Linked DNA regions of Homo sapiens. The protein of the gene in region 1 interacts with the protein of each later gene in a pairwise test. Each region holds a gene or a part of one and is shown in the gene's direction. Other genes may lie near its edges.

Region 1 (7,023 bases):
AAACACAGTTTGAACCGAGGACTGCCTGTGATTGGATGAAACTTGGTGATTGATTGGTACTAGAGTAGGTTACTGTAGGTAAACACATCCAGTTAGGTTACAGTTAACTATGTACAGCAAAGCCTTTTAGGACGATCTTAAAATATGTAGGAGGCAGCGTTAGGCTCAACTGAACACATGTATGTTAGGTTGCTTGAAGTTGTCTCACAGCTTACTCATGCTCTGTCGTTTTAAAAAAATTCCCTTTTCTTCCTATTTCATTTCGGATAGTTTCTGTTACTGTGCCTTCAAGTTGACTAACCTTTTTGTTAGCAATATCAAACTTGCCATTAGTTTCATCAGTGTATTTTTAAATCTCAGACATTGTAGTTTTTATGTCTAGAAGTTTGATCTGGGTCTTTAAACATATTTTTCATATTTAATACTTTTTTAATGTAATGGTATACAGTTATAATAACTTTTAATGCCCTGTATTAATTCTAACATCTGTGTCTGTTCTGGGTTGATTGATTGATTATTCTTCTCATTTTAGGTTGTGTTTTTCTGCCTCTTTGTTGCCTGGTTATTGTGGGTTGGATATCAGATGTGATTTTTCTTTTTATCATGTTTAGTGCTGGGTATTTTTGTATTCCTATAAATCTTCTTGAGCTTTATTTTGGGATGCAGTTAAGTTACTTGGAAACAGTTTAGACTTTCTGGGATTTACTTTTCTAATTTGTTAGGTAGATCTACAGAAGGGCTTATCCCAGGGCTATTCTCCACTGTTGAGGCAATATCCTTCTGAATACTCCACCCGGAGCCTGCGAATTATGAGTTTCCCCAGTCTGTTTGATGGGATCAGGCACTGTTCCTAGCCATGTGTGAGTAGTACTGTTCTCATTCTTTAGAAGGTTGTTTCCCTGGCTTTGGGTAGTTTTCTTACATCCATGTGCTGATGGGTATCCTACTAAATATTTCAGAGGTTTCTCTGTGCAGCTCTCTCCTATCTGATGCTCTGTCCTATGAATCTGTCTTGGTTTCTCTAGACTGTCTCAGCTCATCATTTCAATCATGATGTCTTCCTAGCTCACCCTTAGTTCTTCTAACCTGTCCTGGCCTCAAAACTCTCTAGGCAATAAATGAGCAATTTTAGGGCTCACTTACTTTGTTTCTTATCTCTCACAGATCACTCTGTGTTGTTGCCTGATGTTCAGTGAAACTGCTGTTTCATATATTCTGTCTTTTGTCATTATTTTTTCAGATGGGAGGGTAGGTCTGATCTCCGTTATTCTATCTTTGGCAGTAGTGGAAACGTCCCTGCAGAATTTTACTTATGGAGTTTGACAGCCTATTCTAAAGTTCATTTGTAAGAGAAAATTCACAATAGCTGAGTAAATTTTGAAGGAAGGACAACGAAGAGTGGATTGCCGTTCCACATATCAAAACATGATAAAGCTATAGTAATTCAAATAGTTTGCTGTTTGTGCAGGAATAGACGAATAGATAAATATGTGTGTGTGTATATACACAGACAAATATTTATACATATGAATTTATGGCAAAAGTGACATTTCAAATCAGGAAAGGGTAGTATTAAGATAATTGATTATCCATTCGGAAACCAAAAATTGACTCTTCAAACTGTATTCATTAGAGTATGGATTTAGCATCTTGTGACAGAAACCCAAAGTAATGGTGGTTCAAGAAAGGCAGAAGTTCATTTCTCATGGAAATAAATCTGAGTTGTGTAGCTAAACAGGAACTCAGGCTCTTCTTGTTTTTTGCCTTGTCACCCATAAGATATTTTCTTGTCTCTGTAGTCTAAAATGCCTCATATTCTGGTCTGTAGAAAGGCTAGTTAGGTGAAGGGAAGGCATATTTTTCCTCTTGAGGGTACAATGCAGAATTTTCATGTATCTCTTCTGTTCCCAACGTCCAGGTATGTTGGAAAATAGTCTTTATTCAGGACAGTTCTGAATAGCTCAGTGCCTAGCTAAATACCCTATCATTGTAGAAGAAGTGGAGAATAGAAATTTAGGGACAAGTAGCAATCTAACCTTTGCCATATATAGCAAATTTCAAATGGATTAAAGAAAAATATAAAAATGAAAAGCTGTAAGTACTAGAAGTATACATAGGAGAGTCTGTTTATGATCTATAGGTTACAAAAGTTTCCTAAACAAGAGGCAGAAAGCATAAGCTATACAGGAAAATATTGATGACTTTTTACCACATAGTAATTAAAAATGGCTATATGACAAAGTTAAGAGAAATCACAGACCAGAAAAGTAAATATAAAATATGCAAATAAAAAATTGATATTGGTGATATATAAATATAATACATGCGAATGAAAACATTGATATTCATTATATAAATAACTAATATTCATGATATATTTTTTACCAGTAAATTGGTTAAAAACAAATACTTCAGTAGAAAAATGGACAGAACATATGAACAGACAATCCACAGAGAAATCCAAGTAGTTCATTAATGTACAGTCCCTGTCTCATTATTTGTGAAATGCAAATTAAAATGACATCTTTTGTTTGTCTATAATACAAGTAACCATGTTACCCAAAGTGTGGGGAACATGGTTACTCTCATGCAGTGTTGGTGGAAGTATAAATTGGTACTGTCTATTTGGAGGTCAGTTTGGCAGTATCACAATTAATGTTGCAACATCTTCTGACTCAGTAGTTTCACTTCTAGGAATCTCGTAAAAAATAATCAACATGTGAACTAAGTGATGTCTGGACAAGGATGTTTACTGTATCATTGTAGCAACTAAAGATCATAAATTATGATCTTTCTGAGGGAATATTTAAAAAAATTAGTATACATCCATGCCATTAATGTAGCTATTAAGAAGAATGAAGTGGTTCTGTGTAGACAGACATAAAATCCTCAGAATATATCAAGTGAAAAAAAGTTGCAGAATGGCATCTGTAGAAAGAATCCATTAATGTAAGAAATCAAACCCGAAATGTGTGTGTGTGTCTGTGTTTCTCTCTTTTTGCAATTTTATAGAAAAAGAAAAAAAAGCCCTAGAAGGGTAGATACCACTCTGTGTATAGTGCTTACATTTGGAGAGGGATGTTGGGGAGATAGGGATTTATCCCATATTCTCCATTGTGGCTGGAAATTTTTTTTACAGAGACTAAACTTGTGTTTTACATAATGAACAAATCATGACTGTAGTAAAAAATAATCTAATCTTTTGGCTTTCATGTGTTTTGCTAGGATTGGTCCAAAGGAAGATTTTTTCCATTGTTTGAAATGTAACTTATGCCTAGCTATGAATCTTCAAGGAAGACACAAGGTATATAATTTAGTTTGTATAATTTTAAAAATATTACAGTGTTTTTGCAATAAGCTTAACTTCTAATATGTTTTGGAAGCATGCTAATTTTCATGTATTTCCAAGTGCAACTATATTGCTTTTTTGAAAAGCAGTATTAACAAGTAGATATTTTAAAATATGTACCTCAGAATATCTGACCTACAGTTCCTTTTCTTCTCTGTAGTGTAAGAATGCTTATATCACTTACTAGCATAATGTTGGCAACTTCCAAGTTAGTTTATGGATTCTTACCATTGGTACTGCTTTTAAGAATAACTTTAAAACAGGAGAAATACTGAATGGTGTAACCTAATTAGCACAACATTCTAAGAAAATTCAGAAAATATTTTACTATTTCTTTTTATAATTAAGACATACATATTTTAAATCTGGATGTAGGAATTATGTCACAATCCCAGGCCCTTTTTCATTATTTAAAAAAAAATCTAATAAAGTATTACATTATAGTACTGATTCTATCTACTGTAAGAATTTAATTAAGAGAATGGAGGATTGGTGTAAAGTGAAGTGTAAATCGTACTTGTTCAAGTATAGGAAATTCCAGATAAGGCAGAACAGTATAAGTAGCAACATTGTAGCTGTTGAGAGAGAGAGAGACAGATAGACATTAATTGGAAAGAGACTGTTTGAAATCATTTACTTAGCAGTATAGTAGGTTCGATAGAATATAAGAATAAGAAGTTATTGCAGAAATATAATATTAGCTAGAACTTGGCCTAAATAGTAAAGTGGTGAGGAAAATTGAGATGAATAATGAACATATATGATGTGGTAATGGTATTAAGGAAAAAGAATGAGGCAGAGTAAAGATGACTCTGAAGATTTTCAGCCCCAGCTTAAGGTACTTGATTAGTAGATTGTAAATTTTTTGAAGATAAAAGATTGAGTTTGGTTTTTAAACTTGAGTTTGGGGTGATGGCAAGCTATGCTAATGGAGATAGCCAGGAGTCAATAGTATCTTATAGATTACATTTCTATGATGTTCTGGTTTCCAAAGCATGTGTAGTGTGTGTGCACACACTAATTCATTGCATCCTCACCTCAGCATTTACATTCCATCAACTCAGAGATGCCACTGATGATCAGATATGTTGTAATTGTGGGGATGTTAAAATGTATGTGTGAGGTGCACTTTAGAATCAAATGAAATATGTATTAATTTTATTTTATAAATAAGAAACGTTAAGACTAAAGTGGTGGCTAGTCCAAAATCTCAAGGGCTGGTAAATAGCAGAGCTAGGATTACAGTCTAGATTTTTAAACTTACTATTAAGCTTATTATTTTGAGGGTTTTTCTCCCCACTATACTGTCATCTTTCAAAAACTTACATCTATTTTTTTGTTATGGTTTTTTTTGTTATGTTGTTTTTCAGTTATCTTTTATTGTCTATATTACTAAGTGGTCCTGCCATCTATTAAGTGCTTCCGTTAAAAACCTGGGAGTCTTCCATGGCACAGTGCTTTCCCTTACCTCCTTGGATTTAATCAGACATTACATCTTGTCAAATTAAGAACTCTGGCTCTGAAGTTAGCCTGCTGGAGCTCCAGTTTAATTCTGCCTCTTATTAATGTGTGACTTTGGAAGTTCCTTAGCTTCTCTAGGCCTCCACTGCTTTAACTGTAAAATGGTATAACAATCATAGCCTATTTCATCTAGGATTGTGAGATTTAATTGATCTTATACAGGTACTGTGCTGAACATGGCATGTAGTAAATTTCAATAATATGAACTATTATTACCAATATTATTAGTAAGTTGAGCTTACTAATTTAGGTCACTGGCTTTGGAGTAAAACATACATAATATGCAAAGGTTCCAAATCTTATTATCTTTGGATCTTGGGTAAGTGTCTTGAATTCCTAAGTCACTTTCCTTATTTGTGAAATGAAGGTAATCTCAATAATGTTTATTGACATTTTCATTGTATCAGATAATATGCCAAGCCTGAAATAGTGTGAGATTTAAATAACTATTAAAAAACTCTTCTTACATATAAAAAGCATATATTAATGTTAGCTATTATTTTTAGTAAGTTGGTTTTGTTAATTTTTATTATTAATATTTTTATACCTGACATTTTAATCTAGTTAAGCTTTTGTTAATGTGAATTTCTCTTTTAAACAGTGTATTGAAAATGTGTCCCGACAGAATTGTCCAATATGTTTGGAGGTAGGCTTAAAATATTTTTTACTTTGGAAGTCTCAGCTCTTGAATTTAAAATACTTGGATGTTTATATTGTCTTCATACAAGCACTAACATTTATTTCATTTACAGGACATTCACACATCCCGTGTTGTTGCTCATGTCTTGCCATGTGGACATCTTTTACATAGGTAAAGTAACATCTTTTTCTCAATGATGTTTGAAAATAGTGGAGACAGTTTTTGTTTTACTAAAATAATCTTATATTTTCTTTCAGAACGTGTTATGAAGAAATGTTGAAAGAGTGAGTGTTTGGGATTTTAAAAATAATTGTAAGATGTTTGACTTTTTTGTGTGTGTGGTGTGGGGAGGTGGACAAACATTGTTACTTATACTATATTGGGCATGGCAATATTTATATTGAAATGGGTAGGGTAGATGAATATTGTTAAAACAGGACAAAGTGTCTTGGATATAGAACTACACTTTTGCCATATGTTTCTCTTAAATCTTGTCTCCTCCCACAATTTGAGGTAGTTACCTCTTTTTTTTCTGGCCATATATACCAGGAAGTGCAGTTTTTGCCAGATGCAGTTATAGTGTTGTAAAAATGCTGAAAAATATTGCCAAAAATTTGTTAGGTTGTTATATTGGCCAAGTATAGTAAACTAAAAGAAAGTAGGTGAAGTGATCATTAAAGCTAAGACTTTATTAATGGAAAAGATATTAAAATTAGATGAAAATAATTGAAAAGAGAAGACTGTATTTTGGTCCTACATATTGATGAGCAAAAATGTGAAGAGCTAGAGAGAGCATTCTTTTTTTCAAATTTTTAGAAAGGAAATAATATCTGAATAATTTTAAACAAATACAGTCTCTTTACATGAGTGTATTAAGAAATTAAGGTTGTTTAGATAAGGAGTAGCTTAATTAGTTTATAAAAATATATGAAGTGTATTCTACAAAGAATATGGACTAATTCCTCTCCATTTTAGAGTACTGAGGAAAAAGACTTAGTTTTAAATAAGTATACAGGAATTAATTTAAAAGTTTTATAGTGTGAAAGTTCCCAGGTTCCTAAGAGATTATCTTGAAATGGAGGAAAATGCCTGTTTTGAATGGTTCATGTGGCAGTTAGCCTGCATCTTCTTGTATACCTGAATTAATATATTCTTGTTTAATATTTGGAAAATAACCTTTCTATCTCTTTCAGAGGCTACAGATGTCCATTATGTATGCACTCTGCTTTAGATATGACCAGGTATTGGAGACAGCTGGATGATGAAGTAGCACAGACTCCTATGCCATCAGAATATCAGAACATGACTGTGGATGTGAGTAGAATCAATACTTAAAACTTTGTAGACTCCTTGTTGGCACTCTTATTTTTGCCCTCCTGCTTGAATTTGCCAAAAAAAAAATATATATATACTGGTTTGACACAGATGCTAATGTGATGATTAATGGAAAGCACAAAATGATTTTTAAATTTTAGTTAAGTAGCTCAGATCGGGAAAAAAAAAGTCTTAAGAA
Region 2 (7,053 bases), on another chromosome or scaffold:
ATTATAGTACTATACTAAGCGCTGAAAAAGAAAGTTTACAAAGACTAAGCTCCTTTACTCTAGGCCTGTGCTTCTTAAGCTCTAGCGTTTGTAAGAATGACCTGGAGAGCTTGTTAAACAGATTCCTCCTCTCCTCCTCCAATTCTTATTCAGTAGGTCTGAGGTGAAACCAGATAATTTGCTGAACATCTAAGAAGCTTTTAGGAAACTACACTTTGGAGGAGAGTGCTGTGCATTGGAAAATTGGAAACATCTCAAATATTACATGAGGGTGAGTGTTGAAGAGAATTTATATTGCATTTTCACTATTTGCCAAGCACGTTTAAATACATCACCTCATTTAACCCTCATATAGACCTCATGAGTCATGTATTATTTCAGTTGAGGCAACTGAGATTGAGAAAGGTTAGTTAAGTTGCCTAAACTATAGAGTAAGTAAATGGCAGAGCTTGGGTTTGTACCCACTTCTGCACTCAGTAATTCAGGCAAATCTGTAGCAAGTGTCTTCTTTTTTTTCAGGCACTGTCCTAAGGAACTGGGCATACAACATTGAGTGAGACAGACAAGCTCTCTGTCCCCGGTCAAACTCAACAAGCACTTAAAATATCGATATGAGGGAGGCAGTGTCATGGAGATATACAACAGAAACGTATACTCTAGAACAGAGTTAGAACTTTCCAGGAAAAAAAGTAAAATTTACACGAAGACCTGAGGGATGAATTAGAGCAGTGAAGGATGAGCGGGAAATGTTTTGGGCTGAAGATATACATGAAGGCTTGAAAGCATTCAAGGAGCTGCAGGAAGTTCAGAATGTCTGAAGTGTGGAGTGGAAGGGAGAGATAAGACCCTTGAGGTAGGTAGGCAGGAACCAGATCATGCCAGGCTATTTAGGGGTACAGCCAGCCTTTTTTTTTTTTTGACAGGATCTCACTGTCACCCAGGCTGGAGTGCACTGGTGGGATCTCAGCTCACTACAGCATCTACCTCCCTGGCTCAAGCTATCCTCCCACCTCAGCCTCTTCAGTAGCTGGGTCTAGAGACATGTGTACCACTAATTTTTGTATTTTTTGTAGACACGGGGTTTTGCCACATTGCCCAGACTGATCTTCTGAACTCAAGGGATCCACGTACCTTGGCCTCACCAAGTGCTGGGATTACAGGTGTGAGCCACTGCCCCTGGTCTCAGATTTGTATTTTTAAAAATTTACTATGCCCCCAGAGGGGGATGGATCAAAGGAGAGCTAGCTTGCAGGCAGGGAAATGGTTAAAGATGTTAGTGGTGTAAATTTGGGTAAATGCTGTGTGACTGGGAAGTAGCAGAAGTGAGGGGGATTTAAAATTGTTTAAGACTTGATGATTCAGCCTGGGCAACATGGCAAAACCCCATCTCTACAAAAAAATACAAAAATTAGCCAGGTGTGGTGGCATGTGCCTGTAGTCCCACCTACTTGGGAGGCTGAGGTGGGAGGATCATCTGAGCCCAAGAGGTGGAGGCTGCAGTGGGCTGTAATCATGCCACTGCACTCCAGCCTGGGCAACAGAGACCATGTCTCAAAAAAAAAAAAAAAAAAAAGAAGACTTGATGACTGATAGATTGGAAGGGACAATGTGGACAGGCAAAGGAGGGATCGAAGATGACTTCCAAGTTTTTGAGTAAACTATACAGTTTCAGTAGGGATAAGGTTCTGTAAGCTTATTATTTCACATTTTAAAGGAAGGGTAAATTCAGATAAATGAAGTGATGGAAAGATGCTATTTTAGTAAGATTTCAATGACAGAAACTTACTTGATAGAAAATATGGGAGAGGCTGGAGGCGGTGGCTCACGCCTGTAATCTCAGCACTTTGGGAGGCCAAGGTGGGAGGTGGGAGGATCTCTTGAGCCTAGGAATTTGAGACCAACCTGGGCAACATATTAAGACCCTGTTTCTAAAAAATTAAAGAATCAGCCGGGCATGGTGATGCACATCTGTAATCCCAGCTACTCGGGAAGCTGAGGCGGGAAGATTGCTTGAGCCGGGAGTTGGAGGTTGCAGTGAGCTAGGACTGTGCCACTGCAGTCTAGCCTGGGTGACAGAATGTGACCCTGTTAAGAAAGAAAGATAGAGGAAAATTATTATTTTTGTGGTCAAGTTTACTTTTTTTGTTTTAATTTGCACCAACAGCTTTATCATTTGTCGACAGTGGAGTTCTGAATGCCAGAGATTCCTCCTCTTTTTGCCAAGATCAGGATTAACTATGGAGAGGACCGGCCGTAGACTACGAACTGTCAGTCTACTGAGTTTCTGTCAGTCTTTTGAGTTTCCTTTGTCTTCTTGTTGAGTGACCTTGGACCTTGAGTTTCTGAAGCTCAACATTCCCTTTTTCTTCCCCTATTTTTTACCCCACACTTTACATCTTAAGTGGGATATTGGACATCTCGGATCAGTGGACCAGTGATGATTTGGACTCCGCCTTCTTCGTCTAGGTCCCGCCCACTTTAAGACCCCACCCCTTCCCTAAGCCCCGCCCCTTGAAGAGGTTGTCTCGATATGACAGCAAATTCTCCACAATCCTGTCCTATAGGAGATCTAAAGGGTGGGACTTACATCAACCTTTTTTTTCCATTTGTTTTTTCAAGTGTCTATTTGGCCCAGGTTCCATCCCACTTCATTTTCAACCCAAGGATTGGTTACTCTGTTCTTTGTCTCTGGCTCATGATTGGTTCTTTCGTTCCGCCCCTCTCTTCCAGCTTTTGCAGGCGGGATTACCACGCAGCTTCCTGCTCCTGCCAAAAAAAAAAAAATAAATAATAAAAGAAGAAGAAGAAAAGAGGAGAGAGGCGAAAGAAAAATGTCACAAAGATCTTTGCTTTTTAATTGGCTTTAAGCCTTGTCGGTCAAGCCAAACTCTGCCTTTGATTGGTCTTTCTATCTGCCCATCCCGGATCGGGGGCGGGATTTCCCCGGAAGACCCACACCTTGTTGCCACTGGCCGAACAGTGCGCCTGTCTGAAGCTCCTGGCCCAGGATTGGAGGCGGTGGCGGACAGGTGGGCGTGGATTGGCTAGGGCAGCCGGTCCGTGCAAGGCGGGGGCGGGGCCTCGGCGGCTGGTTGCGCGTGTCCGACGCTGGCTCCGCTCTATCCGGCTTTGCTAGGGGAGGTGAGTCCGGCCGCGGCGGAACCGGCGGCTGAGGAGGCGGCGGCTGAGGAGAAGGCGGCCGCGGCGGCTGAGGAGAAAGCGGCCGCGGGGACGGAAGCCGGGTGGGGGGGAGGGGGGGAGACGGAGCAGCCTTGAGCCCTGCGGGGCCGTTGCGCGGGGGACCCACCCGCTCTCCCCCCCAACCCTCCTCAGCAGAAGCAGCCGGCGGCGGGGGCAGGAGTCAGCCCGCTTCCGACCGTACCCCGCCCGCCTCCCGGGGCTCCTGTTCTTTGGCCCCGGGACCCTAACCTTCTCCCGGGGCGGTTCCCTCCGTCTGGGCGTCCGAGCGCTGCCCACATCTTTCATTCCTCCCTGCACCTCCTTCCCTTCACTTTTGCCCCGGCTCTCTTTCTCCTCTCTGTCCTGCTGTCGCCTCCTCTCCTCACTCCAGCCTCCTTCCCTGGCTTATTCTGCCCAGGAAAGTTTGGAACCCCCGCCCCCCCTCCCCAATCAGGTCAACCTGACTAGGAGTAGGGGGAGATGTAGGAAGGCCTGAGAGTTCGGGGGGGGGGAAGCTGGAAGCTGGTTTCCCAGAAAATTTCCCCCCATCTTCTCCATTTAGGGTGGTGGGAATTTTTTTTAATCCTGTTTTTGAGGAGGTGGTAGGTGTTTAGAAAAGGATGTGGGAATGGAAGGGGTAGATGAGTCAACCCTCTTTCAAGATTCCAAGGGTGGTGTGTTACCTGATCCTTTTCGTGTGTGGAGTTCAGGGGGTCGGGAGGTTTGGCCTTTATTCCCACATTCAAAGTTGGAACCTCCCCCAAATTAAGAATGGAGTTTTAGTACCCACTTGTGGCAGGAATCCTGGGGGGAAGGGGTCCTTTTTTCCTTTTTCTTTTCTTTTTTCCCTTTTTTTTCCTTTTGGCAACCCACACCCTTCCACACACGCTCACCCCAAAATTAAACACCAAGATCCTCTAACTTGTTTGGATTGACTGATGAAGACATAAAGCTCTATGTTTTTTGAGGTGGAGTGAGTGGTTTTTCTTCATTTTTAAATGGCCAAATGACAGCTTGACCCAGTTTGCTTTCCAATCAAAGGGCATTTATTTTGAATGTCTCTTTGTGGCGCAAGAGCCAACGCAAAAATGATGGCGGCTTACAATGGCGGTACATCTGCAGCAGCAGCAGGTCACCACCACCACCATCACCACCACCTTCCACACCTCCCTCCTCCTCACCTGCACCACCACCACCACCCTCAACACCATCTTCATCCGGGGTCGGCTGCCGCTGTACACCCTGTACAGCAGCACACCTCTTCGGCAGCTGCGGCAGCCGCAGCAGCGGCTGCAGCTGCAGCCATGTTAAACCCTGGGCAACAACAGCCATATTTCCCATCACCGGCACCGGGGCAGGCTCCTGGACCAGCTGCAGCAGCCCCAGCTCAGGTACAGGCTGCCGCAGCTGCTACAGTTAAGGCGCACCATCATCAGCACTCGCATCATCCACAGCAGCAGCTGGATATTGAGCCGGATAGACCTATTGGATATGGAGCCTTTGGTGTTGTCTGGTGAGTATCCAAAGAAAAACACAACCTCTCATGGTTTCTTCTGTTGGTTGTCATTGGATGAGTCCATCTCTAATGGTTGTCTCCATGTTGACCAAGGTGCAGCAAGCTTCTCAACCCAACTGTAGGAAGCCACCCTCACTTATGTGGTAAAGAGGCCTAATGCATTGGCTGTCTAGGCTCATGGCAAGTTTTGGTGGAGCGCCTTCTCATGAGCAACACACATAAGTGTGCTGTCTACCAAACTTTTCTATTAGAACCTAAGCAAGCCACTGAACACAGGATCAGTAGATGAATGTATGCAATACTAATTCCTACGAAGACCTTGGTCATCTCGTGTGTTTGATTCAGTGGCCCTGTGGCATTAAGTGTTAGCACCTGATCCAGACTGAATTCCTTTATAATACTCTTGTCATTAGGATATACTTTGCATAACTACTTTCCTGTCCTTTCTGTCTTTTCACTTATTTTGTGATCTTGATCTCCAGAAGAAAGATAGGATTCATAGTTGAACCAGTTAAGATCATTGCTTGAGTGGTTTATTTTAAACCATAAAGCTACAGTTGAGAAGTATGTAGCTGTAGCCTTTTGATAAGAATGCATTAAATATAGCATCACACATGAGTACCACAAATGAGGTTAGTAGACTAGCTATGCAGTGGCCCACATTCAGTGTAATGTTTTAGTGTCATTTAGTGCCTCTTAAGTTGCTGTTATCTGTTGGTCAGTTGCTGTAGTAGGAAATAATACTTTTTTAACAAATGACCCTACCTTTGCTAGTGCTAGGATATTTGTAAAAGCCTAAGGGCTTCTTAAATATAACATTTTGGTCTATTTGGTCTAACCTTAGAAAGATTAGTAGTTTATAATAAAATATGTTTGTTCCTATCAAAACTAGAATGAACTGGGTTTTCTCCCAAGGACTAATGATTCCACTTTGGATAGATGAATTGATATTTTCAGTGCATTCAAAAATTGTTACTCCCGAGAAAAGCGCCCATTACCACAGGAAAATGAACTCTTTGGAACTAGCCCGGTAAATATCTCCTTTCGTCATTGTTTTTGAGGCTAAAATTGATGGGTGCATTGTTTATGCATTTTAACTGGCCATCTTATTTATATTTCAGATTTGATAATCTAGGCTGCTAAGTGATCTCATCCATTTTTTAAAAAAACTAGTAGAGTCCAGTGTTTTCTCAGCTAGTCCCCAAGGAAGTTTCTGCTGCAGCGTGGTCCTTTCTTCAAGGTGTGTGGGATTCAAGGTGGAAAAGAGTATAGCTGGTAATGGTGCCTTGGTCATTCTGCTCAGGGACCTGCCTGTTCCTGCCTTCCTCTCTTCCCTTCCACAGACTATCTCAGAGATTTAACTGTGAACTTATCCTTGCCTAACTCTTGAGGATTTCCAAGCTTTGGTTGGGGGATGGAACAGACAGGAAAACGGTTGTTCCTTGGTTTAAATTTTGTCATTGATTTACTAATAACTTTTAGCACTTGTTTGGATCTTCTTAGATCTGGATGCTTACTTTCTTTTTTAGTGCCTTACATACAATGCTAAAAACTAGGGATACTGAAAGGGAAATGGGTTGCAGCATTCTTGAATATATTCAAAAGGCATTTTTCACTTACATTTCTATCAAAAAGTGATGTGACTTGTAGCAGTTTTTATTTTATTTATTTATTTTTTTAAGGAAGGGGGCAATAAAGAACTGGAGTGCTGAAACATCTCACACAGCAAACGTTCTGCTAGTGGGTACTATGAATCTTTGATATCTGAAAGCCCACATATATTTGGTTTGAAGCCATTCTAGAGGTTTTTAATTGATTGACTGCTCTACCACCTATGGAGTTTGTCTCATGTACTTAAAGTACACCTCTGTGCACCATCTTACTTCAGGTTTGTCTTGTGTCACTGACTACATTCGTAAGCCCCTTGAGGGTAAGGATTGTCTACTGTAGTAATCCTTTTCTCCTCAGCGCCTAGCACAGTGCTTTGGCATCTTTGCTGCTTGGTTAATTGATCTAGTCAGGTCCTTCTTTGTTTTGGCTTAAACAACAGAAAATTATTTCTCACAGTTCTGGAGGCTAGAAATCCAATATCAAGGTACAGGTTTGGTTTCTTTTGAGGCCCCTCTGCTTGGCTTGTGGATGGCCGTCCTCCTGTGTTATCACGTGATTCGGGTCTTTGTTTTTTTAACCAAGTTTTTCTAGTTAACTGCATTGAGTGTTTTCATCAGCTGTTACAGGTGAAATACAATTTGGTATGAAAAAGGAAAGAGTTCCAGGTGTATGTTTTAGTATGCAAATGCTTTTCTATTTTTATATTTACATGTCAATGACTTGCTGTCTGAATTCCTTATTATATT
Region 3 (7,023 bases), on another chromosome or scaffold:
TGAAGGCAGAAATAAAGATATTCTTTGAAACCAACAAGAACAAAGACACAACATACCAGAATCTCTGGGACACATTCAAAGCAGTGTGTAGAGGGAAATTTATAGCACTAAATGCCCACAAGAGAAAGCAGGAAAGATCCAAAATTGACACCCTAACATCACAATTAAAAGAACTAGAAAAGCAAGAGCAAACACATTCAAAAGCTAGCAGAAGGCAAGAAATAACTAAAATCAAAGCAGAACTGAAGGAAATAGACACACAAAAAACCCTTCAAAAAATTAATGAATCCAGAAGCTGGTTTTTTGAAAGGATCAACAAAATTGATAGAACGCTAGCAAGACTAATAAAAAAAGAGAGAAGAATCAAATAGACGCAATAAAAAATGATAAAGGGGATATCACCACCAATCCCACAGAAATACAAACTACCATCAGAGAATACTACAAACACCTCTATGCAAATAAACTAGAAAATCTAGAAGAAATGGATAAATTCCTCCACACATATACTCTCCCAAGACTAAACCAGGAAGAAGTTGAATCTCTGAATAGACCAATAACAGGAGCTGAAATTGTGGCAATAATCAATAGCTTATCAACCAAAGAGTCCAGGACCAGATGGATTCACAGCCGAATTCTACCAGAGGTACAAGGAGGAACTGGTACCATTCCTTCTGAAACTATTCCAATCAATAGAAAAAGAGGGAATCCTCCCTAACTCATTTTATGAGGCCAGCATCATCCTGATACCAAAGCCGGGCAGAGACACAACCAAAAAAGAGAATTTTAGACCAATATCCATGATGAACATTGATGCAAAAATCCTCAATAAAATACTGGCAAACCAAATCCAGCAGCACATCAAAAAGCTTATCCACCATGATCAAGTGGGCTTCATCCCTGGGACGCAAGCCTGGTTCAATATACGTAAATCAATAAATGTAATCCAGCATATAAACAGAACCAAAGACAAAAACCACATGATTATCTCAATGGATGCAGAAAAGGCCTTTGACAAAATTCAACAACCCTTCATGCTAAAAACTCTCAATAAATTAGGTATTGATGGGACATATCTCAAAATAATAAGAGCTATCTATGACAAACCCCCAGCCAATATCATACTGAATGGGCAAAAACTAGAAGCATTCCCTTTGAAACCTGGCACAAGACAGGGATGCCCCCTCTCACCACTCCTGTTCAACATAGTGTTGGAAGTTCTGGCCAGGGCAATTAGGCAGGAGAAGGAAATAAAAGGTATTCAATTAGGAAAAGAGGAAGTCAAATTGTCCCTGTTTGCAGATGACATGATTGTATATCTAGAAAACCCCATTGTCTCAGCCCAAAATCTCCTTAAGCTGATAAGCAAATTCAGCAAAGTCTCAGGATACAAAATCAATGTGCAAAAATCACAAGCATTCTTATACACCAATAACAGACAAACAGCCAAATCATGAGTGAACTCCCATTCACAATTGCTTCAAAGAGAATAAAATACCTAGGAATCCAACTTACAAGGGATGTGAAGGACCTCTTCAAGGAGAACTACAAACCACTGCTCAATGAAATAAAAGAGGATACAAACAAATGGAAGAAAATTCCATGCTCATGGGTAGGAAGAATCAATATCATGAAAATGGCCATACTGCCCAAGGTAATTTATAGATTCAATGCCATCCCCATCAAGCTACCAATGACTTTCTTCACAGAATTGGAAAAAACTACTTGAAAGTTCATATGGAACCAAAAAAGAGCCCACATTACCAAGTCAATCCTAAGCCAAAAGAACAAAGCTGGAGGCATCACGCTACCTGACTTCAAACTATACTACAAGGCTACAGTAACCAAAACAGCATGGTACTGGTACCAAAACAGAGATATAGATCAATGGAACAGAACAGAGCCCTCAGAAATAACGCTGCATATCTACAACTATCTGATGTTTGACAAACCTGAGAAAAACAAGCAATGGGGAAAGGATTCCCTATTTAATAAATGGTGCTGGGAAAACTGGCTAGCCATATGTAGAAAGCTGAAACTGGATCCCTTCCTTACACCTTATACAAAAATCAATTCAAGATGGATTAAAGACTTAAACGTTAGACCTAAAACCATAAAAACCCTAGAAGAAAACCTAGGCATTACCATTCAGGACATAGGCATGGGCAAGGACTTCATGTCTAAAACACCAAAAGCAATGGCAACAAAAGCCAAAATTGACAAATGGGATCTAATTAAACTAAAGAGCTTCTGCACAGGAAAAGAAACTACCATCAGAGTGAACAGGCAACCCACAATATGGGAGAAAATTTTCGCAACCTACTCATCTGACAAAGGAAATATCCAGAATCTACAATGAACACAAACAAATTTACAAGAAAAAAACAAACAACCCCATCAAAAAGTGGGTGAAGGACATGAACAGACACTTCTCAAAAGAAGACATTTATGCAGACAAAAAACACATGAAAAAATGCTCATCATCACTGGCCGTCAGAGAAATGCAAATCAAAACCACAATGAGATACCATCTCACACCATTTAGAATGGCAATCATTAAAAAGTCAGGAAACAACAGGTGCTGGAGAGGATGTGGAGAAATAGGAACACTTTTACACTGTTGGGACTGTAAACTAGTTCAACCATTGTGGAAGTCAGTGTGGCGATTCCTCAGGGATCTAGAACTAGAAATACCATTTGACCCAGCCATCCCATTACTGGGTATATACCCAAAGGACTATAAATCATGCTGCTGTAAAGACACATGCACACGTATGTTTATTGTGGCACTATTCACAATAGCAAAGACTTGGAACCAACCCAAATGTCCAACAATGATAGACTGGATTAAGAAAATGTGGCACATATACACCATGGAATACTATGCAGCCATAAAAAATGATGAGTTCATGTCCTTTGTAGGGACATGGATGAAATTGGAAATCATCATTCTCAGTAAACTATCACAAGAACAAAAAGCCAAACACCGCATATTCTCACTCATAGGTGGGAATTGAACAATGAGAACACATGGACACAGGAAGGGGAACATCACACACTGGGGACTGTTGTGGGGTGGGGGAGGGGGGAGGGATAGCATTGGGAGATATACCTAATGCTAGATGACGAGTTAGTGGGTGCAGCGCACCAGCATGGCACATGTATACATACGTAACTAACCTGCACATTGTGCACATGTACCCTAAAACTTAAAGTATGATAATAATAAAAAAAAGAAATGCTTTAAATTTTAAAAAAAAATTCACATTTCTCCAACTGTCTTTTTCTCTTATTTAAAAAATTATTTTAAAACATTTGCAGTGGGATACAAATAAGCTCCATAATTGTGGTGAGTTAATATGTCTAGTAATTCTTTTTTGATCTACAGGTCTGCTCTTCCCACCTTTTTCTCCTGTAATTGTTGTTGAAGAAACTGAGTCATGTGTCCTACAGTTTCCCACAGTCTGGGTTTTGCTGATTGCACCCCACAGTGTCAATTAATATGTCCCTGTATTTACTATAAACTGGTAGTTGAATCTAGTCTTGATAGAAATTTGATTTGCAGTGCTGGGAGACAAGACTGCTTTTCCGCAACTGAGCACTTATAGGCCATAGTTTGAGAAATGTGCTAAGGAACAGCTCACAACTTTAGTTACAAACAATATTGAGTTCTAATTTTTCAAGTGACCTATAAAGGGACTGAGGTAATCATTAAAAAAAAACAAGTCACTTATTCTGGAGTCTATATGGGAATTTTTCAAGCTTATAGTAATTCAAGCTGATAGTCCTTTGAAGGACAACAGCTATGCTTTGTAATAAGGTGTGCATTTTGACTCTAAAATTGACAAGAGCAGTGTTTTCGGAAGTTTCACTTTGGAGACATTTGTTTTGTTGTATTCTTACATGGAAGTTGAAACAGCATGATAGTAGAAACTCTTGAAACAGGAGGCACTGATGGAGACAGATATTTCTACCAGTAAATCTGCGGTTAGCCCAAAGTATACTGAGAATTTATTGCTAAAATATGGTAAACAAATGATTTGACAAAAGCCCCAAAATGGCTATCATCCTTTGAGTATGTACGACTTAGTAGAAATTTTCTTTCTGAAATTTTCTACTCCTGAAACTATGGCACTATATTATTTTTAAATGAGTCATCTAATATCACATGAAACTAATACATTGTCATAGTGAAAAAATTAGCTGTCAAATATCAAATGCAAGCACAATTGTTAACAATTTCCAGGATCAAATCTACGTTGTACATTTTAACTTGAATAAATATGGCTTTTACAGGGAAGCTATTCTTTGTCTCATGTTTATACACCAAATGATGTCCGTATGGTGATTGAATATGCCAGATTACGAGGAATTCGAGTCCTGCCAGAATTTGATACCCCTGGGCATACACTATCTTGGGGAAAAGGTAAGGAGTTGTATTTTATTTCATTTTATCTTATTTTTTATTTTTTGAGATGGAGTCTTGTTCTGTCACCCAGGCTGGAGTGCAGTAGTACAATCTCGGCTCACTGCAACCTCCACCTCCCAGGATCAAGCGATTCTCCTGCCTCAGCTTCCTGAGTAGCTGAGACTACAGGCATGCGCCACCATGCCCAGCTAATTTTTGTTTTTGTTTTGTTTTGTTTTTTGAGACGGAGTCTCACTCCGTTGCCCAGGCTGGAGTGCAGTGGCATGATTTTGGCTCACTACAACCTCTGCCTCCCAGGTTCAAGCGATTCTCCTGCCTCAGCCTACTGAGTAGCTGGGACTACAGGCGCCCGCCACCACGCTAATTTTTTGTATTTTTAGTAGAGACGGGGTTTCACCGTGTTACCCAGGATGGTCTTGATCTCCCCTCCTCATGATCGGCCCGCCTCGGCCTCCCAAAGTGTTGGGATTATAGGCGTGAGCCACTGCGCCTGGCCAGGAGTTGTATTTTATAAGTTGCAAAAGTGAATATTTGAGGTATTGCATTTCTTATTTTATGACCTAGTGTTTGCTCATTTTGTTCTTAATTGTGATTGGCCTATCAGTAATACTATTGACAGATACAATTCAATAGCTACTCTGTGTCTATTGTGAGCAAGTCATTGTGATTAGGTACTGCCTAAAGTATAAAAAAGGGAATGAAAGAAAACAAAAAGTGATTACAAAAAGTAGAACATGATAAGTGAATTCAAGAAATGGTTTCATAGATGAGGTAACACTTAAAATGCTTTTGAGTGATCACAGAATATATTCATGTTTCTGGTAGAGGAAATGGCATAAGGAAATGTGTGCAAAAAGTGTAAGATATGCTTGACAAGTATGTAGCTGGAGTAGAGTGTAGCAGAGTAGGAGGCATTATAGGGTGGTGATTAAGAACTTTGGCTTTGGAGCCAGACAGCTTGGGTTTGAATCTTGCTTCTGCCATTATAAACTAGGTGACCTTGGGCAAGTTACAATATCTCATCTTCAGTTTCTCCATCTCTAAAATGAGAATTAGTAGTAGCTATCATGTAATTTTTTTGAGAATTAAATAATGTAAAGCACATAGCACAGTACCAAGCATTTATAATTGCTCAATATTATTAGAGTAGACATGGGGAATAGTGAGAGGTAAATCTGGAAAAGCACATTAGCGGGCCTTTGGTGAGGAATGTGAACTTCATCAGGACACACTGGAAACCAGTGAAAATTTCTGAGCAGAGGAGTAACATGATGGGAACCACACTTTGGGAAAACCTTTGGGAAAGTGACAGATTGGAGTTCTGGACCAGGAGGGTGATAGTGGGAATGTAAAATAATGGACAGAACTGAGAGACATTCTGGAAATATCCATAGAATTTGGCAACTGATGGACTCCAGGAGAGAGGAGGTATATACTCTAGGATGACGATGGTACCCTTATTAGAATACGAAAATCAGGAGAAGCTAGAGAAGGGAGCTTAAGGACTGCAGATGTTGTTTTTTGTTAGCTTGTATTTGAAGTACAGCTAGGATATTCAGTTGTATCCAGCAGGGAATTTGAAATATGAATTGAAGCTCAAGAAAAAGCGTTGAGGCAAACTGAAGATTTGGGAGTTACTAACATTTGACATAGATAAAATCTCAGATATAATGGGAAACAAAGAGGCAAAGAGACAGGATTCAGGAAACCCTTCTTATCTGGAAGAAATTACTAGCTCTTAGTAAACATGTTCATCTTTTGTGTATAAAATCTTGTAGCTTCAATAAAATGACGTAGTAAAATCATGTGGAAAACCAGATCTTTATAATGAGTACACTTCTTTTAAAAAGAATCTTAATATTTTCTTCTAGGTCAGAAAGACCTCCTGACTCCATGTTACAGTAGACAAAACAAGTTGGACTCTTTTGGACCTATAAACCCTACTCTGAATACAACATACAGCTTCCTTACTACATTTTTCAAAGAAATTAGTGAGGTGTTTCCAGATCAATTCATTCATTTGGGAGGAGATGAAGTGGAATTTAAATGTTGGTAAGATGATTCCTTAAAACCCCTTTAAAAAAAAAAAAAAGAGAGGCTGGGTGCGGTGGCTCACGCCTATAATCCCAGCACTTTGGGAGGCAGAGGCAGGCAGATCACCTGAGGTCAGGAGTTCAAGACCAGCCTGGCCAACATGGTGAAACCCCATCTCTACTAAAAATACAAAAATTAGCTGGGCGTGGTGGTGGGTACCTGTAATCCCAGCTCCTTGGGAGGCTGAGGCAGGAGAATCTCTTGAACCTGGGAGGAAGAGATTGCAGTGAGCTGAGATCATGCCACTGTACTCCAGACTGAGTGACAGAGTGAGACTCCATCTCAAAAAAAAAAAAAAAAAAAAAAAAATGGAATAAAAAACCTGTTGCATTGAAGTAGCTGTAGAGGGCTCCACACCATAAGGAAGACTTAAGAGTAACATGCCTGCTTGTAAGGGTTTAAACTGGGCAACATGACTCCTGAGATGGTAGATTTGTGGAGAATGTACATTTTGGTATGGCAAAGTAAAGCTTGAGGAAAAACAAGATGCAGAAGAAAAT
Region 4 (7,893 bases), on another chromosome or scaffold:
TGCTAGGAGCTGGGGGCATCTATTATTCAGGGGCACGGGCACACGCACAGCACAGTGCTGGATACCACACAGGACGCCTTTCTGCCTAGCAGCCTTTGCCAAATGAGAGGGGGAAGAAACCCTCGGCCAGGGTGACTTAGATGCCAAGCGACCTCCGTGACAGTTCAAGTTTCTGTTCCTGGCTGCGTCACATGCCCCCATGGCCCGGGCACCCCCGAAGCCCCGGCAGCATCAGGTCAACCTCAGATCCTCCAGTGAACGAGCAGGGACTATGGTGAGCCAGCCTCCTTCACCCGCCCTCGGGCTGCCCTGCTCCAACACTGCATGCACTGACAGTTCATCTGTAGCTATTCACTTTTCTCTGGAAACCTGGAAATCACCTTTGAAATTTCCCTTCTTTGTTCTTACTGCCAAGGGCAAAGAGGAAGTAGGGAGGCCTGAGAAGCTAAACAGGGGGAGTTTCCAGTTCTCGAAGGTGGCCCTACCTGGCTCTGAGAAGGAGCCGAGCTGTCCATCAGCGTCGATAACTGGAGCCTTCCTCCCCAGTCCTGGCTCTTGTCCACTGTCCCCTCCTCTACTGCTCCCCAAACATACCCATCCCCAAGAGAGAAATAGATACCAAGGGGAGAGGAGGTGTCGGTGACGACTCAGTCCCTCCAGAGACCTGGCTGTAACCCGAGCAGAGGTGTGCACTGTGAGGTCGCCCAAGGGCGTATGCTGTCCCCTGGGGTGTGTAATGGGCCCTCTCTGGGACTGGCTGGGAGCTGACCAGATCTTCTAAAACTAGTCTGGGATCGGTTAGAGACTCAGCCTCCCCAAGGTCCAGATTTTCACAGTGGTGCTGGCAATGTGACCACTTGCCCTCCAGATCTTTGACTTTTCCAGATCCCTAAGCCCTTGGGAAAAGGCTGGGGGATATCCTGATAGGAGCCACTGGAAAATCCGCATCCGGGGCTGTGATGACGGATGTTTTCCTGCTTCCTTTTGGTACTGGTGACAGGGAGGGGCTGGGAAGGGAAAGACATCCCAGGTGGGCAGCTTTGATAACTCTCCTTTGGAGGAAGTAGGGAGGGAGAGTCCTTTTCCTATGTCCCTAGTCACCTCGGTCCCCAGGCGCGCTGACCCAAGCTTTCTCACTTCCCCATCTGTGGGATGACGGCAGTCCTGGCTGCCTTGGAAATCCACCAGGCAGCGTTCACCAGAGAACCCAGTGTCCACCCAGGGCCTCCCTCTGGCTGCCTCAGGAGAGCTAGTAGGTGAGTAGCTCAAATGAAGGGCAGTGTGGCCCCCAACCAACATCAAGAGATGGGAAGGGGGACTTGCTTTTCAGGAAAGACTCTTTAGGTCATCTCTAGGGGCTGGCCTGAGCTGCTGGGTGATCTTTGAAGACCCTTGAGAGTCATTTAGCACAATTTCTGTGTCTTTCCTTGACACGACCACAAGCAGTTGTCAAGGCCTGAGTCCCAAAGTGTGGATACCTTCCATAGATATGCTAGGCCCTAGGGAGACTAGTCAGGTACGTGCACCTCCCCCCACCCCCGGTACCTGTATTAGTAATTTTTTTATTAATTGAAGACCCAGAAATCTTTTTTTTATATCAGTTGTACTTTCATTTAGAAGTATGAATCATGAGCAAGTAGTCATGCAGGAAATTGTATCCTCTGCCCACCCACCCACAGAAAGGGCCAGTGCTGGAATGGACAGAATACAGCAGGAAGTGCATGAAGGTGGAAAAGGGGAGGGAGCTGGGAGCTTATCTCCGAGAGCGTTTGGGAGGATAGGCGCGTGGAGTCTGTTAGCTGGAGGCTTCTACATTCCTGGGCCTCCAGAACCCAAACGCCTGCCGCTGCCCTGCCAGTGAAACCAAACCGGTTGCCTTTTGAAACTTTCCACTGAGGCCACCTTGGAGTCAGAGCCAGCGAGCTCAGGTCTCTCCTGGTAACCTTCACACCTAGAGGTGGGGGGATGGGGGAGCAGTATTGAAGGTGAGGAAAAACAGCATGAAATGGAGCATTGTCAGGATAGATGGTGACTCTGTGGAAAAACAGAATCGGGAGTCCCAAGACCTGATTTAAAAATCTGAACTTTCCAGTCTGAGCAATATAGCGAGACCCTGTCCCGTGTATGATGGTGTGCACCTGTAGTCTTGGGAGGCTCACGTGGGAGGACCGCTTGAGCCCAGGAGTCTGAGGTTACATTGAGCCATGACTGTGCCATTGCACTCCAGACTGGGCAACAGAGTAAGACCCCGTTTCTAAAAAAGAAATTCTGACCTTTTTATCTCCATGACTTGGGGCTAGTTGTTTAATCTTTTTTAATTATCTCCATGACTTGGGGCTAGTTGTTTAATCTTTTTTAATTATCTCCATGACTTGGGGCTAGTTGTTTAATCTTTTTGACTCATCTCCAAAAGGGGAGCAACAATACTTATTTTTTTAATTTTGTCGAGGCAGGGTCTCGCTCTACAGGCTGGAGTGCAATGGCACAATCACAGCTCACTGCAGCCTCAACCTCCTGGGCTCAAGCGACCCTCCCACTCCAGCCTCCTGAGTAGCTGGGACTTACAGATGCATGCCACCACGCCCCCGCTAGTTTGGTTTGTTTGTTTGTTTGTTTGTTTGTTTTTGAGACAGAGTCTCCTTCTGTTGCCCAGGCTTGAGTGCAGTGGAGTGATCTTGGCTCACTACAAGCTCTGCCTCCTGGGTTCACGCCATTCTCCTGTCTCAGCCTCCCGAGTAGCTGGGACTACAGGCGCCCGCCACCACGCCTGGCTAATTTTTCTGTATTTTTAGTAAAGACAGGGTTTCACCATGTTAGCCAGGATGATCTGGATCTCCTGATCTCGTGATCCGCCTGCCTCAGCCTCCCAAAGTGCTGGGATTACAGGCGTGAGCCACCCCTCCCCGCCACGCCCCGCTAGTTTTTTTTTTTTTTTAATTTGGGGCTGGGCGTAGTGGCTAATCCCAGCACTTTGGGAGGCCTAAGCAGGTGGACCACCTGAGGTCAGGAGTTCGAGCCCAGCCTGACCAAAACGGCGAAGTCCCATCTCTACTAAAAATACAAAAATTAGCTGGGCATGGTGGCGCATGCCTGGTCAACATGGTGAAACCCCGTCTCTACTAAAAATACAAAAATTAGCCAGGTCTGGTGGCAGGCACCTGTAATTCCAGCTACTTGGGAGGCTGAAGCAGGAGAATCACTTGAACCCAGGAGGTGGAGGTTGCAGTGAGCCGAGATCGCGCTATTGCACTCCCGCCTGGGTGACAGAGTGAGACTCTGTCTCAAAAAAAAAATAATAATAATAATTTCTTTTGTAGAGACAGGGTCTCAGTATGTTGCCCTGGCTGGTCTTGAACTCCTGGGGTCAAGTGATCCTCCCATCTCAGCCTCCCAAATTACTTACTTTTTAAAGGGTGGTCATAAGGGTGAAGTAAGAAAATGTACATCAAGACAAGCTGCAAAAATCTAAAGCACAGAACACAAGTGAGGGCACTTGCATCTCAGTTTACCCTCCGCTTGAATAGATACGGGGAATAAACTAAACACGAGGGTGACACACCTTCTCCCACCTTGTCAGCTGAAGCAGGAGGCCTTCCCTGCCCACCCCATGGTCATTATCTCCAGCATCTCCAAGGCCACAGCTTTTTTTCTTTTTCCTAGTGGAAAAGAGCTGGGAAACGTGGCTTTGGCCAGCAAGGGAGAAGGGGCCATTATGTGTACCAGCAAAGACCCGATTGTTACTGAAACCAAACTGGGCTGCTTTTCTCAATTATCTCCACCACTTTTCTGGTCTCCACTTTTCAGATGCCAAGTTTTAACCCAGAACAAAAGCTGCTGTCGGACTGATTTATAATCCAGATCTGCTGACGCAGCCTGAAGTGTTCCTCCCCTCCAGGACTGCACCCTGGCTTAAAGTTACCTCCAAACCTCAGGACGTCAAGCCCCTTCACCTCTGCCTTTTGCCCCTAGCCAGGAGGTAGCATCTGTCTCCAGGTGCCCGTGGGGTGTCCTCCATGAGGACCACCTCTTCTAACCACCTGCCCAGCTCAGAGGACCAGCTGGCAGGAAAGACGCTGCACCGCCCATGAGGCCAGAGCTACAAGTTGCTTCTAGGAGTGGCTGTGGGCGGAGGCTGGTGGTTCTGAAGGTGGCGGTGGTTCTGCAGCGTGGCTCCCCACAGCCCCTTTCATCTGAACAGTAGGGCTCATGCCACTTGTTAATCAGCCTTCCAGTGGCACGAGGAGTCATTTTCTGGGGATAGGCGCTTTGCCCAAAGCGTGAGAAGCAGGAGCAGGCCCTTTCTGTTGATTGAAGGGTCTTCCTGGCTGGTGAAGCCCTTTCCAGACTTGAGGGCAGGGACCAGTGGTCCTCGGGGCCTAGAAAGAGGCAGAATTGGGGGCCAAACGGCAGACCCCTCTGGTCCGCCCCAAAAGACGCCTCGGTTCCCCCAGCGTGCCTCCCCTGGATACTCGCCTCGACGTGGCTCGCCCGCGGTCGTTCCTGCAACTGCACGGTCGGGAGTCCCTCTCCCCAGCCCAGCCCGCCCGGAGTCTTCGGGGGACACTTCAGAAAGATCGGGTGAGTGTGATTCCCCCGTGGCCATACCCGGAGTCCCTCCCCCGCCCCACCTCCCTCCAGGCGCTGTGGCGCAGCCCGCGACTCCGAGCCCCGGGGCTGCTGGACACCCGGAGGGGTTGAGGTCCGGGCACCCAGAGAGGCGGAGGTCCGAGCCCCCGGGCGGAGAGCGGGCGGGTCCACAGGTCGCTGCGGGTCGCAGCCCCCTCCTGAGCGAGCCTTCGCGGCCCGCCCCCGGCCTCCGCTCGACCCCCCCAGCCTGACGTCAAGGGGAAGGGGGCGGAGAGCCGCGGCCGCGCTGGAGAAAGAGCCGGCGCCCGCCGTGGTGGCGCGGGGAGCCCGAGCCTAGGGGCGCGGAGCCGGGCGGGGACGGAGGGGCGGTGGCAGAGAGGCCGCGGAGGGCTGGCGGGCGAGCGCGGGCAGGCGGCGACGCGGGGGCAGGGGTGGACGGCGGTCAGAGCCGAACGCGAGGGCGGCGCCCGGGGACTGGAGCTGCGCGCAATAGGTGAGCGAGGCCGGGCTTGCGTGAGGCTGGAGCCGCGGGGCCCCGGAGCCGCCGCTTTGTCCCTTTGCTTGGGCAGGGGCTGCCGGACGCGGGAGGGACAGGGGCTGGGGCGCGGGGAGCCGCGGCGGCGGAGACGGCTGTACGCGGGGATCCTTCCTGCGACCCCCGCGGCTGCTTCGCAGGGTCTCGGGAGTGGGGCGCACAGCACCTGCAGCCCCGCAGCCCCGGGGCCGGAGGGGCGCGCCAGCGAGGGTTCCTCGCGCGGTCCGGTCCGCGGCCGGGATCCTCGCCAGGCTCCTGGACTGCCCTCGGCGCTCCCACCCCCGATGGAAAGTTTGGGGCGGGCTTGGAGGGAGGCCGATGTTGTGGGATCGGATTTCCCTGCCGCGGCCCCCCGCCCGCCCGCCCATTCCGCTGGGGAGGCGGGTTGTCCCGGAAAGCCAGGCCCCCGGGCCGAGCCGGGCCGCGCCGTCCCCGGCTGGAGCGCTCGCCCTGCAGGGAGGGCCGCGGTCCACGGCTGGCCGCTCGGGGTGGGCGAGGGTGTGGGGTGCCCCGCCTGGATCCCGCACCCCTCCCCCCAACCCCTCCTCCCGGCTGCCCGTTTCCTCGCCCTGGGGGGAGCTGCGGGTGGGAGCACCGCTGCCGGGCGGATCCTCGGAGCACGCCACGGGGTGCGGCCCGATCCTCGGGTAAGGAGCCGAGATGAGGCCGCGGGCGTTTTGGGGGGCTGGTCTGGGGCGCAGCCCCCGCTCTCCCGCGCCGGGGCTCTGGGCCGACAGGGGGCGTCCGCAGGCCGGGCTCGCCACGCTCCCCGCGCCGCCGCTTTGTTTGCGTTCAAATCCCTGGAGCTGGGGGAGGGGAGAACCCGGGGGGACCCGGGACGGGGTCTTGGCGGGGACCCTTTGTTTGGGGGTGAGCAGGTCCCCAGCTTCTGCGTCTCCGCCCCTGGCACGGGAAGGCTGGAGCAGGGGAAGCCAATCCCGCTGGCCCGCCCAGGCCAGGGTCCCTGGGGCGCAGTCCCCGAGTTGGGAAGGTTCGTCAGAGTCGCGGGAGCGCAGCGGGTGCCGGCCGTGCGCGGCGCGTTGCCAGCGGCCCGGGAGGAACCCCCTCGCGTCCCCGCCCCTACCTCCCCCCGTCGCCTGCGCGCGCCGCCGGAGTCCCCGACTCGACCCGAGCTCGGTCCCCCCACCGCCCCTCCGCCAGAGGGCTGGTGTTTCGGAGGAGGCAGTGCGAGGAACAGGATGAGGCCCTGGTCATTTCCACGCCCATCCCACCCACTTCCTGCCTCCCTCTTGGGCAACAAAGGGGCCTCGGGAAGCTGGGCCCCTTCGCTCCCGGCCCTTCTCACACTCCTGCCCTGCTGATGTGGAACGGGGTTTGGGGTTCTGCAGGGCTATTGTCTGCGCTGGGGAAGGGGACAGGCCGGGACCGGGACCTCCGCTCGCAGCCGGCCGCACCAGGTTTCCCCTTTGGGGCTTTCCCGACCGCCTACCCCACCGCATGCCCTCGTCGCCCTAAGGAGTCTTCCTCCCAGAATTAGGTGTTGGCAGGGTCCGGAGCCCCAGTGGCTGCAAGGCCTGCTGCCTGAGGTTCTTTCAAGAAACTCAAACCTCTTAGGCCTGAGTGTGTATGTTGGGCGGGGGTCCCCTTTTTATTTCTCAAATGATTTCCTGTTGCGCAGAGGTAGTGGTGGGTCTGGAGGCCAGGGAGGGCTTCCCGGAGCCTGTTTAGCCTTCAGCCAACTCAACTCCTCCCCGCTTCCCAGGGAGACCTGTGGTCTTTTAGGCAGAGGCCAAGTGTGGGGACTTAGGTCCACCTCCAAAGAGAAGGGGAAGGAGGGCACCGGGGCTCCTGGAAGGCCTGATGAGGAGTCCTGTGGCCTCTCCTGCTGCGGGCCCCTCTGGTTTGCTTTCTCTGGCTGTGATTTCTGACCATGTCTTTTCCCTCAGCAGGACAGCTGGCCTGAAGCTCAGAGCCGGGGCGTGCGCCATGGCCCCACACTGGGCTGTCTGGCTGCTGGCAGCAAGGCTGTGGGGCCTGGGCATTGGGGCTGAGGTGTGGTGGAACCTTGTGCCGCGTAAGACAGTGTCTTCTGGGGGTGAGTGCCTGGAGGGGTGAGGAGGAAGTCAGGGACAGGCTGCTGAGGAGTTGCCCCCATAGTGTGCTGGCTTTATTCTCACGTGTGTGGCACAGCTTTCTAAGAAACTCGAGTTGGAAGAACGGGCAGTGTGGGTTGGGACCTGGGATTAGCCTCCTCTGGGGGAGCTCTGTCCAACTCCCCACCCCAGACTGCCTGCCCAGGTGTGGGAGGGGGAGAGCCTTCTGCCTCGCCCTCTCCACGCCTCGCTTCTTGAATTGTCACTGGCGCTGGGAGCCTAAAGAGAAACTGGAACCGGGATAAATATAAACTGGAGGCTCTCTCCCCTGGCTCCCCAGGCCCCCCTAAGACCTCCTACTGCCCTGTACACATCATACACTCTGGTGGCCCTGGAAGTGTGTGTGTATGTGCACATGCTCGCATGGTTGCCGGGGCACAGCGGGGACCCAGCAGTGCTCCCTGTGCACACACCCGTGTGAAAGGTGATGTCAGGTGTTTGTATCAGCCGTGCGCTCTGGGGACCTGGGATGAGCTCACCTCCCACAGGCTCCACTCGGGTGCCAGTGAAGCCCTGCCATGCCGGTCTGTGTCTGGATCCATTGTTGCCTGCAAAGACTAAGGCTGGTTTGGGGGGACCCTGAGGACAGGTCGGCAGCCATATTTGGCAGCTGATGTAGGAATCACGTGACTGTATAAATGTCGTAGTGCCCTGCAT

What was found.
Region 2: the proteins of RCHY1 (region 1) and NLK interact in binary tests that used the Homo sapiens proteins (3 or more experiments, as listed by UniProt).
Region 3: the proteins of RCHY1 (region 1) and HEXB interact in binary tests that used the Homo sapiens proteins (3 or more experiments, as listed by UniProt).
Region 4: the proteins of RCHY1 (region 1) and SEMA4C interact in binary tests that used the Homo sapiens proteins (3 or more experiments, as listed by UniProt).

The regions. Positions count from the first base shown.
Region 1 is NC_000004.12:75,490,382-75,497,404, reverse strand, and holds part of RCHY1 (RING finger and CHY zinc finger domain-containing protein 1), read left to right. Parts: intron 1-3,225; coding exon 3,226-3,304; intron 3,305-5,471; coding exon 5,472-5,516; intron 5,517-5,622; coding exon 5,623-5,681; intron 5,682-5,767; coding exon 5,768-5,794; exon of another isoform or gene 5,795-5,822; intron 5,823-6,703; coding exon 6,704-6,824; intron 6,825-7,023. UniProt on the Homo sapiens protein: E3 ubiquitin-protein ligase that mediates ubiquitination of target proteins, including p53/TP53, TP73, HDAC1 and CDKN1B. Mediates ubiquitination and degradation of p53/TP53; preferentially acts on tetrameric p53/TP53.
Region 2 is NC_000017.11:28,038,639-28,045,691, forward strand, and holds the start of NLK (serine/threonine-protein kinase NLK), read left to right. Parts: upstream 1-4,038; 5' UTR 4,039-4,235; coding exon 4,236-4,693; intron 4,694-4,699; exon of another isoform or gene 4,700-7,053. UniProt on the Homo sapiens protein: Serine/threonine-protein kinase that regulates a number of transcription factors with key roles in cell fate determination. Positive effector of the non-canonical Wnt signaling pathway, acting downstream of WNT5A, MAP3K7/TAK1 and HIPK2.
Region 3 is NC_000005.10:74,709,210-74,716,232, forward strand, and holds part of HEXB (beta-hexosaminidase subunit beta isoform 1 preproprotein), read left to right. Parts: intron 1-4,296; coding exon 4,297-4,426; intron 4,427-6,300; coding exon 6,301-6,481; intron 6,482-7,023. UniProt on the Homo sapiens protein: Hydrolyzes the non-reducing end N-acetyl-D-hexosamine and/or sulfated N-acetyl-D-hexosamine of glycoconjugates, such as the oligosaccharide moieties from proteins and neutral glycolipids, or from certain mucopolysaccharides.
Region 4 is NC_000002.12:96,867,063-96,874,955, reverse strand, and holds the start of SEMA4C (semaphorin-4C precursor), read left to right. Parts: upstream 1-4,875; 5' UTR 4,876-4,920; coding exon of another isoform or gene 4,921-5,928; intron 5,929-6,206; coding exon of another isoform or gene 6,207-6,371; exon of another isoform or gene 6,372-6,537; coding exon of another isoform or gene 6,538-6,582; exon of another isoform or gene 6,583-6,943; coding exon of another isoform or gene 6,944-7,069; coding exon 7,070-7,178; intron 7,179-7,893. Other genes in the region: collagen alpha-1(I) chain-like, read right to left, coding at 4,921-5,928, 6,207-6,371, 6,538-6,582.